3 linked regions of the Homo sapiens genome follow. The protein of the gene in region 1 purifies or fractionates together with the protein of each later gene. This does not show direct contact. Each region holds a gene or a part of one and is shown in the gene's direction. Other genes may lie near its edges.

Region 1 (4,636 bases):
CCCGGAGCCCTCGGCTGCCATGCTGTGAGTCCCTGCCCTTCCCCACGGCCTGCCCCGGCATGGGGGCCCTGGTGCCTGGGCCTCCCCTTCCCTGAGGGCCTCACCTTCCCTGCCGCCTCCTCGGGCAGCTTCGTGTGCAGCCGCAGTGGCCACATCTTGGAGATTGACTGTCAGCGCATGGTCGTGCGGCATGCCCGCCGCCTGCTCCCCACACGGACTCCAGGCGGTCCCCACCCACAGAAGCAGACCTTCAGCTCAGGTAAGAGGGCGCCCACCACGTGGCCAGGGTGGCAGGGACACCGAGGCACTGACGCCTCCCTGCCCCCAGGCCCCGGCATTGCCATCAGCAGCCTCAGCGTCTCCCCGGCCATGTGTGCTGTGGGCTCTGAGGACGGCTTCTTGCGGCTCTGGCCCCTGGACTTCTCCTCGGTGCTCCTGGAGGCAGGTGATGCTGTGGGCACGCTCTCCCAACTCCGGGAGAGCCTCGCCTGGATGCTGGGGCGGGGAAGGCCCAGTCCCCGGGGCTCTGCTGTCAGCCGCCCTGGCTCCTGGCTGCACAGGGTGCCACGGGGCCAAGTGGCATATCCAGAGCCCTGGGGCGGCTGATGCCAGGGCGGCCCGCGGGGCAGCCTCACGGAAGGGCCCGGTGGGACGTGGGTAGTGTGTGAAGCCCCTCAGCCTGGGTCCCGCCTAGCCTAAGAGTGGTGGCCTCGAGGGAGCTGCATCTTGCAGCCGTGTGGAGCCTGGGACTTTGAGCAGCAGGGAGTGCATTTGCTGGGGTGTCGGGGACCCGAAGCCTGAGCATGCGGCTCACCCCGGGGTGGCCCTGGAGGCCCCTGACCCCACCCCACCCACAGAGCACGAGGGCCCCGTCAGCTCAGTCTGTGTCAGCCCCGATGGCCTCCGTGTGCTGTCTGCCACCTCCTCGGGCCACCTGGGCTTCCTGGACACGCTGTCCCGGGTGTACCACATGCTGGCTCGCTCCCACACCGCCCCGGTGTTGGCCCTCGCCATGGAGCAGAGGCGGGGACAGCTGGCCACCGTGTCCCAGGACCGTACCGTCCGCATCTGGGACCTGGCCACCCTGCAGCAGGTGGGGTTTGGCAGGGGCAGCACGGCAGGGAGGGCCGGGAGGTCCTGAAGCTGGGGTTTGTCAGCGGGGGTGAGAGGGGCCTATAGGGACCTGGACTTTCCAGCCTGTGTCGGCCCCATGGGTTTGGGCCGCCTGGAGAGCCCCTGGGCCCTTGAGATCCCTGCCCTCCCCTCAGCACGGCCCCTGTCCCACAGCTATACGACTTCACATCATCAGAGGACGCCCCGTGCGCTGTCACCTTCCACCCCACAAGGCCAACCTTTTTCTGTGGCTTTAGCAGTGGGGCCGTGCGCTCCTTCAGCCTGGAGGCCGCTGAGGTCCTGGTGGAACACACGTAAGTGCCCAGCTGGCCACCAGCCCCACGGAGACCCCACGGTGGAAGCTGGGGTGGCCAGGTGGGGGTCATGTGCAGGATGGCCAGTGCTGGCTGGAGCCCCACCCTTTGCTGCCCCATGGGGACTTCCATGGCCAGGCTGGTTGGCTGGAGGTCGAGGGAACCCATGGTACCTGGGCTTCGGGGCTAGGGCCAGCGGGGTCCCTGTGTGTGCTGCAGGTGCCACCGAGGAGCTGTCACCGGCCTGACCGCCACCCCTGACGGCCGCCTGCTCTTCAGCTCCTGCTCCCAGGGCTCCCTGGCCCAGTACAGCTGTGCGGACCCCCAGTGGCATGTCCTCCGAGTGGCAGGTTGGGCCCCCTGCAGCCACTCTGGGGGACTCCTCAGGGCGGGGGAGGCCTGGATCTGGTGCAGGCCCACACCTGGACACACATGCCGGTTTCCTGGTGCACCGACTGGGTCCTGTGGGGGGGCGTGGCCGCCTCAGTAACCTTGTCAAGGCCCTGAGGAGACTGTGGTTTAGCGTTCACTGGACCCCAAGGCCAGAGGTCAGCTCGGGTCTGTGCCCAGGAGGCGGCAGGCAGCCCAAGCTCCAGGTCAGCAGCTGGAGTCAGACCCAGGCATGGGCACCTGCCCTGTCCTGCGGCCACCATAACTTGGGCCCCCTGAGTGGTCACTTATGACTACTGCTGGCCCACGGGGACTCCCAGCTCCCCTGGCAGCGCCTGGCGCCCACTGGCACCTTGGCAATCCTCTGCCGGTGTGATGCGTCTGTGCTCCGGGGCTGGTGTTTCCCGAAAGTGGGGGCAGGGGCGGCGGCCTCCTCGGGCCCTGGCCACGCGCACCCCGGCACTCCCCACCCAGCTGACCCCTGCCCCGTGTGGCCACAGCGGACATGGTATGCCCGGATGCCCCCGCGAGCCCCAGCGCCCTGGCAGTCAGCAGGGATGGCCGCCTGCTGGCCTTTGTGGGACCCTCCAGGTGCACAGTGACAGTCATGGGCTCGGCCTCCCTTGATGAGGTGAGTCCGCAGCCCTCCTGGGTCCAGGGAGACTGGGCCATGAGAGGCTGGCTGCAGGGGCAGGAGGGAGGTCACGGCCACTCGGGAGCAGGACCCAGGCCCTGTCCCGCCTCCTGTCGCAGAGTACACATCAGCCATGTGGGGCCCACGTGCGGCCAGGTTCCTGTGCAGGGCAGGTGCTGCCTGGGTGCCGAGTGCGTGTCCCCGGGACCTCCCTCCCGAGCCTGACCCTGGGTGGCACCGGCTCTGCCCAGGGGCCCTGACTGTCGGCCACTTACCACTACCCCCAGCTGCTGCGAGTTGACATCGGCACTCTGGACCTGGCCAGCAGCCGCCTGGACTCAGCCATGGCTGTGTGCTTTGGCCCTGCAGCTCTGGGCCACCTGCTGGTGTCCACCTCGTCCAACAGAGTCGTGGTGCTGGATGCTGTGTCGGGCCGCATCATCCGGGAGGTGAGCCTCAGGGCTGTGGCCCGCCGACCTGGCCCTCCCTGTGCTGTCCAGGCCTGGCCTCTGTGCCTGCAGCCTCTCCAGCTGGGTGGGGGGCCGTCGCCACACCCACAACGAAGGGAGGCCCCAGGCTGCTGGCCACTCTCCTGAGACACGGCATTTCCCAAGAGCACTGTGTTCCAGCTGCCCGGTGTCCACCCTGAGCCCTGCCCCTCCTTGACGCTCAGTGAGGACGCCCGCTTCCTGCTGATTGCCGCCGGCCGGACCATCAAGGTGTGGGACTACGCCACACAGGCCAGCCCAGGCCCCCAGGTGTGTGCGTGGGGAGGCAGGTGGCTTTGGCGGTCAGGAGCCTCCTCAGGTGGCCCTGGAGACCCCTGCAGGTGTGGGTGGGGGCAGGGAGAGCAGAAGGTGAGGGGTGAGAGTGACCCCCCAAGGATCCTCTGTGCCTCCGGGGCCTCACACTGTGTGGGGCTCACCGTCCCTGGGGACTGGGCACACGGCAGCATCCATGCCCCGCCTCGGGGTCCTGCATGTGACGCCGCTACCCCTAGGTGTACATCGGCCACTCGGAACCCGTGCAGGCTGTGGCCTTCTCTCCTGACCAGCAGCAGGTCCTCAGCGCAGGGGACGCCGTCTTCCTCTGGGATGTCCTGGCCCCTACTGAGAGGCAAGTGCCTACTCTCAGCTGTGTCTGCCTAGGCCCCCCAGGCCCTCCTGAAACCCTCTCTCCTCCCTCTCCAGCGACCAAAGCTTCCCCGGGGCCCCCCCAGCCTGCAAGACAGGTGAGTGGCTGTGCTCAGCTGGGGTGCAGGTGCTGCGCTGACTCTGGGGCCCGTCCTGTGTCTGCCTAGTGGCCCTTCCTCTTCCTTCCCAAACATCACAGGGCTGCTTCTTCCCCAGGCCCGGGCGCAGGACCGCTGGAGGACGCAGCGTCCAGGGCCAGCGAGCTCCCCCGGCAGCAGGTCCCCAAGCCATGTCAGGCATCTCCACCACGGCTGGGCGTCTGTGCCAGGCCTCCCGAAGGTGGCGATGGTGAGCAGCAGGGGTCCTGGAGGAGTGGGGGGATTCGGGGGTCTGAGAGGGCACAGGCCCAGTGGCAGCAGGTACTCACGCACGTCCAGCTCTGGGGTGCAGGTGCCATCGCTGCTCATCAGGTGGAACACAGTGGGGTCGGGGTGGGGGCAGCTTTTCCTCTCCTCCTTAGCCTCATCAGGTGGAACACGGTGGGGTCGGGATGGGGGCAGCTTTTCCTCTCCCCCTTGGCCCCAGGCACCTTGTCCCCGTCAGATGAGGAAGGACCCTGTGAGGAGAGCTGTGACCCCGAGGGGCTTGGGCAGGCCTCAGGCCCACCTGTGCTCACGGAGGAGGAGGCTGGCAGGGCTGGAGACGGGGCCTGGGCTGCGGCAGTGGGCTCCTGGGGGCTTGCCCTGCCTCCCCGTTCCCCCGGCCAACCCCGTGAGCAGTGGAGGGCAGGGCAGGGACGCTGGTGCCGGTGCAGGGGCCTGAGGACGGTCGGTGAGTCCCCCGTGTGACGAGGCAAGGTCACCTGCAGTGGGACACGGTTTGCCTGCGTCTGTGGCTCCGGCCTGTGCCCCGCCGTGCAGTTCTCACTGTGTGGTAGACCAGGGGCTTGTGGGGAGACTGCGTGTAGTGTGGGGTCTCTGAAGAGCTCAGGGCAGTGTAATGCCACAAGCTCTGCCTCCTCCCTGCCAGGCGCCAGGGACACCAGGAATTCG
Region 2 (5,389 bases), on another chromosome or scaffold:
TTCCCACTGAATAAGCATTACCTAATTAAACATAGCAACATCTAAGACCAATTTATGAAAATACTCTCCTTTTTTATGGAGGCATTGGAGCTGCTGAGAAAGCTAATGAATTTCCCAACTTTGGGATAATTAATATATAGTATTGTGTTGCTCTAGTGTAGTTGATTTTATGTGTTTAATATTTTTCATGTCAAGAGCAAAGCTGCAGACGTAAAAGATGTTTCTCTAGCCCCCTTAGCTAGAGCGAGCCACCTTTGTTAAGAGTCAGGGTGTGAAGAACAATTTCAAGATAAATTTTAGTATTTCAACCATTGTTATTAAGAAAATTAGACTTACTGAAATACTCATTTAAAAACAGACACCTTCTATAGCATTGTTTTATAGTGGAGTTATTTTTAAAAAGGGAATCCCAGAAAGAATCTATAAAAATACAAGGTTAAAACTTTAAATGTATTGAAAGATACAAATTGGTGCTTTCAAATGTCATGTAAGCTAGCCATTGTGTTTTTTTTTTTCCCTCCAGCTCCTCAATGGTAGTAATTTGTCTTTTATGATTTACCGTACATTATTTCTTGCTCACCATCCCCTTAACATATGAAAATCCTTAATTTCTACTGCCGCGCTATATGTCTTCCTGAATCTCAAGGTATAAATGTCTTAATGGATCTGATTTGTCTCCACTCTTTGCCATCTGATCCACATTCAAACCGCCTAGAAATTAGAAAGAATAGGTAATGTTCTATCTACGATTTCTTGTTCAAAATATCACGTAGTGGTGCCAATCACTTACAAAGACACCATCTCCATCTTGAAAGAGTAACTGGCATGTTAGTCTTGAAAATGCTCATTATGATATGCTCCTCACATTTCCCATCTGCTTGAGGATGGACATTTATTAGCTGAGACTTTAAAGCTGCTAAATTCACACTTTCTACTTTCATACCTTTTTAATCAGTAATGTCAAGACCATTGTTGCAAGGAGTGAATCTTACTAAACACATCCTGTTATTACTTTAAACTAGAATATGAGATTCAAGAGATTTAAAAACAATTTTAATGTAACGTTTAAAATTTTTGAACCAATTGAGAATGTCTACTTTGGAGTGAAGTTTAAGGAAACAGTCACCAGAGTTTCTAAAAATTTTTTGGAGGGAGGTACCTAATAGAAGAATCTAGACTTAGAAATGTGAACTGTGGTTAAATACCAAACCCAGTTCCGCAGTGGTCGTCTAAAGCGTCTAAAACTGGAGTGTTAAGAAAACCCAGAGACATTCATATAGTTTCAGTTATCAGAGTATTAGACCAGACTTTATTTGCAATTTGTTCAACAGAGAGATTTTATTTTGATACAGATATTAAGCATAAAGCATAGTAAGTTTTATATAATTCTATGAGTTCATTAAACAATATTATGAAATTTTCATTATGTTCGTGGGGAGTCTTTTTAACTGTTTCTACCTCATATATGAGGTCTCTTCTGTATTTTACTTTGCATACTAGCATGTGATTGCCTGCCTTAGAACTATGTAGAGGAGGGGAAATCGATATTACCTTTTAAGAAATTTTTGATTTTATGAAGTGTTTTCATTAATACTTTTTTAATGTTTGAGAAGTAAAGGGGAAAGGGTGGCAAATTACATAGGTTGCAACACAGAGTAGAAGTCACATAGTACTATTTACAGATCTGTCCTGTTTTAAGATTTGAGAATTGTGAACAGGATGGAGCAATGGTTCTCAAACTTCAGCCAGTATCAGAATTGCCTCGAGGTCTTGTTAAAATTCAGATAGCTGGACCCACCCCCAGCATTTCTGATTTTGGTCTGGAGCCTGATGATTTGCATTTCCAACAAGTTTCCAGGCGATGCTGATGCTGCCAGTCCAGGAACCACACTTTGAAAATCACTGGGTCTGATTCTCGCAGTTTGAAAGTCTCAGAGACCTTCAGAGTCTGAACGTCTTTTCAACCATGTATTTATTTACTCAGTGTAAAAAACTGATCTCTGGAGACATTTTTATAAATCTGGTGCCATGACTGGAACATTTGTGGAGAAAGGTCTCCATGGAGCGACAGGCCCTTTGGATTGGCCACCACCCCTCCTCACTCTCACCCCTGCTGGGGTCTGCACTGCTCTTCCGCAGTAGGGTGAAGGAGCTCTTTGGTTTTAGGGTGAGTTTGCTTTTGTGTACGCTGCTGCCTGGACATCAGTCTGGAAGCTGTGCATTTGTTTGGTGTGCTTAGGGTCAATCTTGATCCACATGCATGGAAGTGAGAATCCTGGAAAGAAGCCATCAGAATGCCATGAGAGTGCACCTAGCATGTATCGAGGCACTAAGTGCAGGAGTCCCTGTCCTAAGATGGCAGTGACATGGAGCATCGAAAACCACAGATAATCCTTAAATAATAAAATAATAGTTTTGTTTTTTTTTCTTCGGGGCAGAGTCTCGCTCTGTTGCCCTGGCTGGAGTACAGTGGCATGATCTCGGCTCACTGCAACCTCCGCCTCCCGGCTTCAAGTGATTCTCCTGCCTCAGCCTCCCAAGTAGTTGGGACTACAGGCATGCGCCACCACGCCCAGCTAATTTTTGTATTTTTTAGTAGAGACGGGGTTTCACCGTGTTGGCCAGGATGGTCTCCATCTCTTGACCTCATGATCTGCCCGCCTCGGGCTCCCAAAGTGTTGGGATTACAGGCATGAGCCACTGCGCCTGGCAAATGTTTTAGTTTTTATGGTTATTATTATTTTTTTTTTTTGTGGGGGAGGGTGGTGAGGGCAAAGGATTTGTTTTTCAAATTATGTGTTTCTCAGGTTAACAAAGTTATTTTAGATTCTCTGCCATGCCAGCAGGTGTTAGAGAGAGCCTGAAGTGTTACATATGGCAGAAAATAAATGTCTCTGATTACTTTGCTACCTTTAAAAAAATCTATATGTGTTTGCAAAACAGCCTAGGGGGATCTACCACCTACACAGCATGAATTATTCATAAGTCATAGGTGCACATGTATGAGCAAGTTATTTTTGAGAAAGAAACTGCCTATAATATAATAAACCTGTCAGGTCTTTGGGTATTGTTTAATTTGTGTGTTGTTGCTGTTTTATCTGGACTGCATCTTGGGGGGTACTGGGCTCTGCTTCTGGTTTTTAGTTTGCCTTTGAATTTACTGAGCTACTAGAAAGACAAAAAAAAGCTATTTTTATGGTAATAGAATACAGAATGACTTAGGTGTAAAAGTACACGTGAAGACCATCGTAGAATATACAGCTTTGGAGTTTTCTTAAGACACAGTCCTTCCTACTGAAAAGGCTTGCTCACCTTTGGAGAGGATTGTTTATATTTTCAGCCTGGGTTCCTTTATGCAGTCCCAACTTAGAGGGGAGCTTCGGTTTATTTACACTTTGCTTTGCACGATAACTTGTATGCGAAGACCTCTTTATATCTTTCAGTAGGTCAGAGGGCTCTTTGTCCTGGTTGAAGTCCCAAAGTGTCAGTGCAGCTGAGAATGTTTCTCAGCCTCCCCCTTTACAGAGGAAGGGTCCTGGATTTTCATAAATCCAGACCATGCCTGCTTCCTATAAATCCATGTATATGACATTGTACTGTATCTGATTTCTGTGCCAGTCATCTGACCTGATTCTTTAAACCCCATAAAGGTACTGGCTATATGTAGTAGTTGTATCCTAGGTAAATATGGTGATTAAAATACTTCTCTTCTAAATTATAAAGATAATGAGTTTTGCATTTTATTAAAGGGTCCTGTTATTAGTGACACAGGATTTTTTTTTAATGCTTCATACATATAGTTCTTATCTAAACTTGTTCAGCTAACTTCATAGATCAGTTACTTAGCAAATTCATACTGAGTCTTATTTTGGGAAGTCTTCCTGAGGGAAGCTGTACAAAACTGAGGTGGTCAGGTTCATCTCTTCAAAGTACCAGTTATACAGCCATCTAAATAGGCATAACTTATGGCAAAATTATAACAATTTTTTTTCTTTGCAGTAAATGATACCTCATCTAAGAGGCTCTAATACCTAAAGAGTTTATCCTTAAAAGTAAAAGTGACTTTGTACCATAAAATAACCCCAAAGCCACTCTCTAGGGTTTTTATTTTCTTCTTTCTTTGTCTTTATCTTTTCTAACTTAGTTTTGGAATTACGTTAGCTACTTTGGTTCCATAGAACAAGTTTTCAACTTGGGGTCTACAGTTCCTACAGTGTGCTCATTGTCTCAGTGAAGTTCTTTTGTTTTCAAAGATTCATGGTAACAAAATGTATTTTACTGCTACAACTAAAATGTATTTATAATAAAATGCCTTTTTAATAATTTGGAGATGTGTTTATTATGTGTGAACTATAATTCTCTGCTTCCTTCTGCCCTTAAGGTCAAAGGTCTGACTGAAGTTAAGCACAGCCCTTTGATTTTATTCCTAATAGTAAATGGTAAAACGAATGTAACTGAGAACTCAGTGTGAATTTGTAAAGTTCTAACTCTACTTTCCAGACATTTGTGACTTGGCTTAAATCCCCTAACTTCAGCAGTAATGCTTTTAAGACTTAAACGTGTTACCTGAAAGTTTAAAGATCTCCAGTGGTCAGTGAGAAAATAAGCCCTTTTCAAACAGTCATTCAACAAATATCTTACAAATTTAAGAAAATTATCCTGAATTACTCTTAACAAGTCACTTAGTTGTTAATGCGGCCCAGAATTTATTTGAGAACTCATAAACCTAGTTTGTAGTGATATATTATGTAGGTATAATCATGCACTTCACAGTAATGCGTGCCAAACATTAATTCAACAATCCAAAAAAAAAAAAAAATGCTGGTTGTGCAGAAAATTGCCCTGAGTCAAGGTCTTGTTTTTCTTGGGGAAATAATTCTTTGCATCTGCCATGATGTGATTTTGAGAAGCATTAGCAGGTCACAGAAGGCTTTGTGTGCCCTGGCTATTTTATTTTTAACATCCTATTAATGTGGCACCATAAATCTAGCTTGAATGTACTGTGCTTCAAGTTTGTAAATGTAAGTAGATGGGACGGTCAGCCTTTCCTAAGGACAATGTACCATTTGTACTCATTGCGGTGAATCCATTTTAAGCTAGGTATCTCGCTTTGAGATGATTTGATATGACAATCAAATCTGGACTTAAGAAATAAAAACTTCTCTCCATATAAATCAAATGGATTTGGGGGACTCCTTGAGCTGTTCCCTGCTCTAGATGAAATAACCCCAAGGCTCCACTGTCACTGGGAAAATGCAGATGTGACTGCCGCAGGTGTTAGCCCTATGCCATATTGATGCTATTTGAAGCATTTTTCTGAGAATGGTATTGGTATGAAAGTTCGTGTGAAAATGTAATTGATAAAACAATCACTTCCTTTCATCAAAAC
Region 3 (4,636 bases), on another chromosome or scaffold:
GCCCTAAGCACGTGAGAAGCTGTTTGTGGTTTTCCCTTGACCTCTGCAGTTTGAGTGTTCAGAGGCCTTGCTGCAGACACAGGGCAGTGGATGCCCGTGAAGCCCTCTCCCCAGCCTGCTGGGGTCTCCCTAGCAAGTGGTCATATGACTTTTCTGAAATCCCCAAACACATCTGGCCCAAGGGTTTTGATGGAAGGGCCGTGGACCCAGGTGACTGTGGAGAGAACGGGTACTGAGGCTGCAGCAGCCCGCTAAGGCCCCAAGAGCATGGGTGAAGATGCAGTGCTGCCCAGGGGCCTCAGCTTTGTGTCTGGACTGTGCCCCAGAAGTTGCCCAGACTCTTTGGCAAGGGGCTTTGTGAGACCCTCGTGGTGTGCATTCGCCTCCTGTCTTACCTGATCCTGCAGGAGGATGTGCAGTTTCCTAGCATTTGCATGGGGTTTGTCTCAAGCATGGGATGGATGGAGAGCGGGAGAGGGAGGTACAGGGGAGAGAGAGATGGGAGACATGGAGGGAGAGAGGCGGGAGACATGGAGGGAGAGAGGCAGGCAGACGCAGACCCTCAGCCTCCCCCTCAGTTCCCCTCAGAAAACTGCTTTTCCTCAGAACTTGGCTCACAATCCCTTTCTCTGTGGAACCCACCCTTGGGTTGTATCCTTCCTCTTCCGTCTTTTTTTTTTTGAGATGGTCTTGGCCATTGCCCAGGCTGGAGTGCAGTGGTGCGATCACAGCTCACTGCAGCCTAGACTCCTGTGCTCAAGCGAGGTTCCCGCTTCAGCCTCCCAAGTAGCTGAGACTACAGGTGTGTGTCACCACGCTGGCTAATTTTTAAATGTTTTGTAGAGACGAGGTCTCACTATGTTGCCCAGGCTGGTCTCGAACTCCTGGGCTCAGCCTCCCACAGTGCTGGGATTACAGGTGTGGGCCACTGTGCCCGATCCTGTCCTCTTTCTGAGCCTCTGGTATACCTTTATTAGGTTGCTGATGTTAACCTGTGTGTCTGTCCCCGAGTGAGGTGGTGCGGTCACATTCTGTGCATCTGGTGCCCAGTGTCAGTCTGTCATGTGGAGGCCAGTGGCTGGGCTGACAGGAGGCCTGGGTCCCTTGGCTCTGTGATCATCCTGTCTGGACTGTGGCAGCCTCCTCATGGGTCACCATGTGCTGAATGCTGGAGGACATTGTGTGCCACCTCTTAGGAGCCGCCCTCACCAGCCTCCTCTCTCTTTTTCGGCCCGTGTCCCCTTCTTTTTTTGTTTGTGTTTGAGACGGAGTCTCACTCTGTCACCCATCTCACCAGTGAGCTGGTACAATCTCAGCTCACTGCAACCTCTGCCTCCCAGGCTCAAACCATTCTCCTGCCTCAGCCTCCAAGTAGCTGGGATTATAGGTGCCTGCCACCTCACCGGGCTAATTTTTGTATTTTTAGTAGAGACAGGACTTTGCCATGTTGGCCAGTCTGGTCTCGAACCTCCTGACCTCAAGTGATCTGCCCACCTCGGCCTCCCAAAGTGCTGGGATTACAGGCGTGAGCCACCACGCCCGGCCCCCTGGCCCCTGGCCCCTTCTGTGTGGGCCCCATCTGAGAGCCATTTCCCAAATCTGAGAGCCATTTCCCTAGTCGGCTGTGAAATCGGATGGTGTTTGTAGTCAATCAGTTGTTTTTTTACTGTTGTGGAGTTTACCAGGGACTCTCCAATCTCTCTCTCGTTTCCTCTCACACCTCCTCAAGGCAGCAGCACGGACTTCCCCTTGCAGGTGGGGCCGAGGCTAGGCTGCACGGCTGACGGGGGGTTTGGGGGCCCTGAGATGAAGCGAGAGCGCTGACCAAAGCATTGGCAAGTTCTCCTGTACTTTACTGTTGGGCTTTTGGTAGCATTCTCTGCAAAATCATTTCTAAATGTGGACTTAATTTGGAGAAATTTGAGACTAAGTGCTTTATTTTTTAACTTGGTCACAAAATTTGGTCTTTTTCTTGTTATAAATTGGTGGCATTAAATGCTTTGTACTTAGTTCTAATGGAGAATCGGTGCAATCTCTCCTTTTGACTCATCTGTGGCCCTACATGATGGTCACCCATGTCATTATCCCCAGGGTGGACAATGTCCCAGAAGGAAGCCTGCCAGTGCACGGTGAACAGGCGCTGCCCAAGGACCAGCAAATCACTGCCTTGGGGAGAGAGGAACCTGTGGCAATAGAGAGCCCCGGACAGGATCTTCTGGGAGAAAGCAGGTCTGAACCAGTGGATGTGAAGCCATTTGCTTCCTGCGAAGATTCTGAAGCTCCAGTCCCAGCTGAGGATGGGGGCAGTGATGCTGGCATGTGTGGCCTGTGTCAGAAGGCCCAGCTAGAGCGGATGGGAGTCAGTGGTCCCAGCGGTTCAGACCTTTGGGCTGGGGCTGCCGTGGCCAAGCCCCAGGCCAAGGGTCAGCTGGCGGGGGGCAGCCTCCTGATGCACTGCCCTTGCTATGGGAGTGAATGGGGCTTGTGGTGGCGAAGCCAGGACTTGGCCCCCAGCCCCTCTGGGATGGCAGGCCTCTCGTTTGGGACACCTACTCTAGATGAGCCGTGGCTGGGAGTGGAAAACGACCGAGAAGAGCTGCAGACCTGCTTGATTAAGGAGCAGCTGTCCCAGTTGAGCCTTGCAGGAGCCCTGGATGTCCCCCACGCCGAACTCGTTCCGACAGAGTGCCAGGCTGTCACCGCTCCTGTGTCGTCCTGCGATCTGGGAGGCAGAGACCTGTGCGGTGGCTGCACGGGCAGCTCCTCAGCCTGCTATGCCTTGGCCACGGACCTCCCTGGGGGCCTGGAAGCAGTGGAGGCCCAGGAGGTTGATGTGAATTCGTTTTCCTGGAACCTCAAGGAACTCTTTTTCAGTGACCAGACAGACCAAACGTCATCAAATTGTTCCTGTGCTACGTCTGAACTCAGAGAGACACCCTCTTCCTTGGCAGTGGGCTCCGATCCAGATGTAGGCAGTCTCCAGGAACAGGGGTCGTGTGTCCTGGATGACAGGGAGCTGTTACTACTGACCGGCACCTGTGTTGACCTTGGCCAAGGCCGACGGTTCCGGGAGAGCTGTGTGGGACATGATCCAACAGAACCGCTTGAGGTTTGTTTGGTGTCCTCTGAGCATTATGCAGCAAGCGACAGAGAAAGCCCAGGACACGTTCCTTCCACGTTGGATGCTGGCCCTGAGGACACGTGCCCATCAGCAGAGGAGCCAAGGCTGAACGTCCAGGTCACCTCCACGCCCGTGATCGTGATGCGCGGGGCTGCTGGCCTGCAGCGGGAGATCCAGGAGGGTGCCTACTCCGGGAGCTGCTACCATCGAGATGGCTTACGGCTGAGTATGTCCCGGGCCCCATAGGAAGAAGTGTGGTGCTCCCAGAGCACAGTGCAGTGGGGGTGCAGGGCCTTCCTTGTTCTGGGGTCTGATGGGGTTTCACCCTGGAATAGTGTTAGCAGAAATCATGTTTTCAAGGAGAATGCATATCATCCACCCCTAGAAAATTAAGATTACGAATGTGTGTGCCTGGGGAGGGTGGCGCCCAAGGTCCCAGGCCACCTGCCCCATGCCCGTCAGTTCCAGCTGTGCCCCCTGACTCAGGCCATACACTTAGAGAGCCGCTCCTCCCAGCAGCCTGGGGAGATCCCGTCGGGAGCAGGAGAAGCGTGGGGGTGTCACGCTAGAGTCTGTCTCTCCACCTCCCACCAGCCCCCACCTCAGTGGTCACACAGACAGGCCGAGAGGGATGTGAGCGTGGTGAGATGCTCACGTGTTCTTCTTCCGTGCTTTTGGTGTTTAGGCTGCCCTGATCTCTGAAAAACCTGCCCTTCTGTGAGGGTCATGTGATCGGGCCCCTCTGCTTGCCCCTTTGAGATTGATTCTGTTTTACTTTCTTTTTTATTTTCATTTCTTTTTTTTTTTTTTTTCTTTTTTTTTGAGACAGAGTCTCTCTCTGTTGCCCAGGCTGGAGTGCAGTAGCGCGATCTCAGCTTACTGCAAGCTCCGCCTCCCGGGTTCATGCCATTCTCCTGCCTCAGCCTCCCTAGTAGCTGGGACTACAGGCACCCACCAGCACGCCCGGCTAATTTTTTCTATTTTTAGTAGAGACGGGATTTCACTGTGTTAGCCAGGATGGTCTCGTTCTCCTGACGTCGTGATCCGCCCGCCTCGGCTTCCCAAAATGCTGGGATTACAGGTGTGAGCCACCGTGCCCGGCCTATTTTTTTTATTTTTTGAGACAGAGTCTTACTCTGTCCACCCTAGCTGGAGTGCAATGGCATGGTCTCGGCTTACTGCAACCTCCGCCTCCTGGGTTCAAATGATTCTCCTGCCCCAGCCTCCTGAGTAGCTGGGACTACAGGCGTGTGCCACCACACCCAGCTAATTTTTTTGTTTTTTTAGTAGAGACAGTGTTTCACTATGATGGCCAGGCTGGTCTCGAACTCCTGACCTTGTGATCCACCTGCCTCGGCCTCCCAAAGTGCTGGGATTACAGGCGTGAGCCACTGAGCCAGGCTAATTTTTTGTATTTTTAGTAGAGATGGGGTTTCACCGTGTTAGCCAGGATGGTCTCGATCTCCTGACCTCGTGATCCGCCCGCCTCGGCCTCCCAAAGTGCTGAGATTACAG

Evidence for each region. Proteins that work in one complex are often made in the same cells at the same time.
Region 2: the proteins of WDR90 (region 1) and HELZ purify together in Homo sapiens (affinity purification with mass spectrometry; one large-scale study listed by BioGRID and IntAct). This does not show direct contact.
Region 3: the proteins of WDR90 (region 1) and PASK purify together in Homo sapiens (affinity purification with mass spectrometry; one large-scale study listed by BioGRID and IntAct). This does not show direct contact.

What each region holds. Positions count from the first base shown.
Region 1 is NC_000016.10:655,445-660,080, forward strand, and holds part of WDR90 (WD repeat-containing protein 90), read left to right. Parts: coding exon 1-24; intron 25-128; coding exon 129-259; intron 260-328; coding exon 329-445; intron 446-857; coding exon 858-1,093; intron 1,094-1,287; coding exon 1,288-1,427; intron 1,428-1,646; coding exon 1,647-1,777; intron 1,778-2,317; coding exon 2,318-2,448; intron 2,449-2,738; coding exon 2,739-2,900; intron 2,901-3,065; coding exon of another isoform or gene 3,066-3,080; coding exon 3,081-3,209; intron 3,210-3,451; coding exon 3,452-3,567; coding exon of another isoform or gene 3,568-3,641; coding exon 3,642-3,682; intron 3,683-3,800; coding exon 3,801-3,932; intron 3,933-4,169; coding exon of another isoform or gene 4,170-4,415; intron 4,416-4,613; coding exon 4,614-4,636. UniProt on the Homo sapiens protein: Microtubule-binding protein that plays a crucial role in ensuring inner core protein localization within the centriole core, as well as in maintaining the microtubule wall integrity and the overall centriole roundness and stability.
Region 2 is NC_000017.11:67,069,378-67,074,766, reverse strand, and holds the end of HELZ (probable helicase with zinc finger domain), read left to right. Parts: 3' UTR 1-4,323; downstream 4,324-5,389. UniProt on the Homo sapiens protein: May act as a helicase that plays a role in RNA metabolism in multiple tissues and organs within the developing embryo.
Region 3 is NC_000002.12:241,124,907-241,129,542, reverse strand, and holds part of PASK (PAS domain-containing serine/threonine-protein kinase), read left to right. Parts: intron 1-2,091; coding exon 2,092-3,347; intron 3,348-4,636. UniProt on the Homo sapiens protein: Serine/threonine-protein kinase involved in energy homeostasis and protein translation. Phosphorylates EEF1A1, GYS1, PDX1 and RPS6.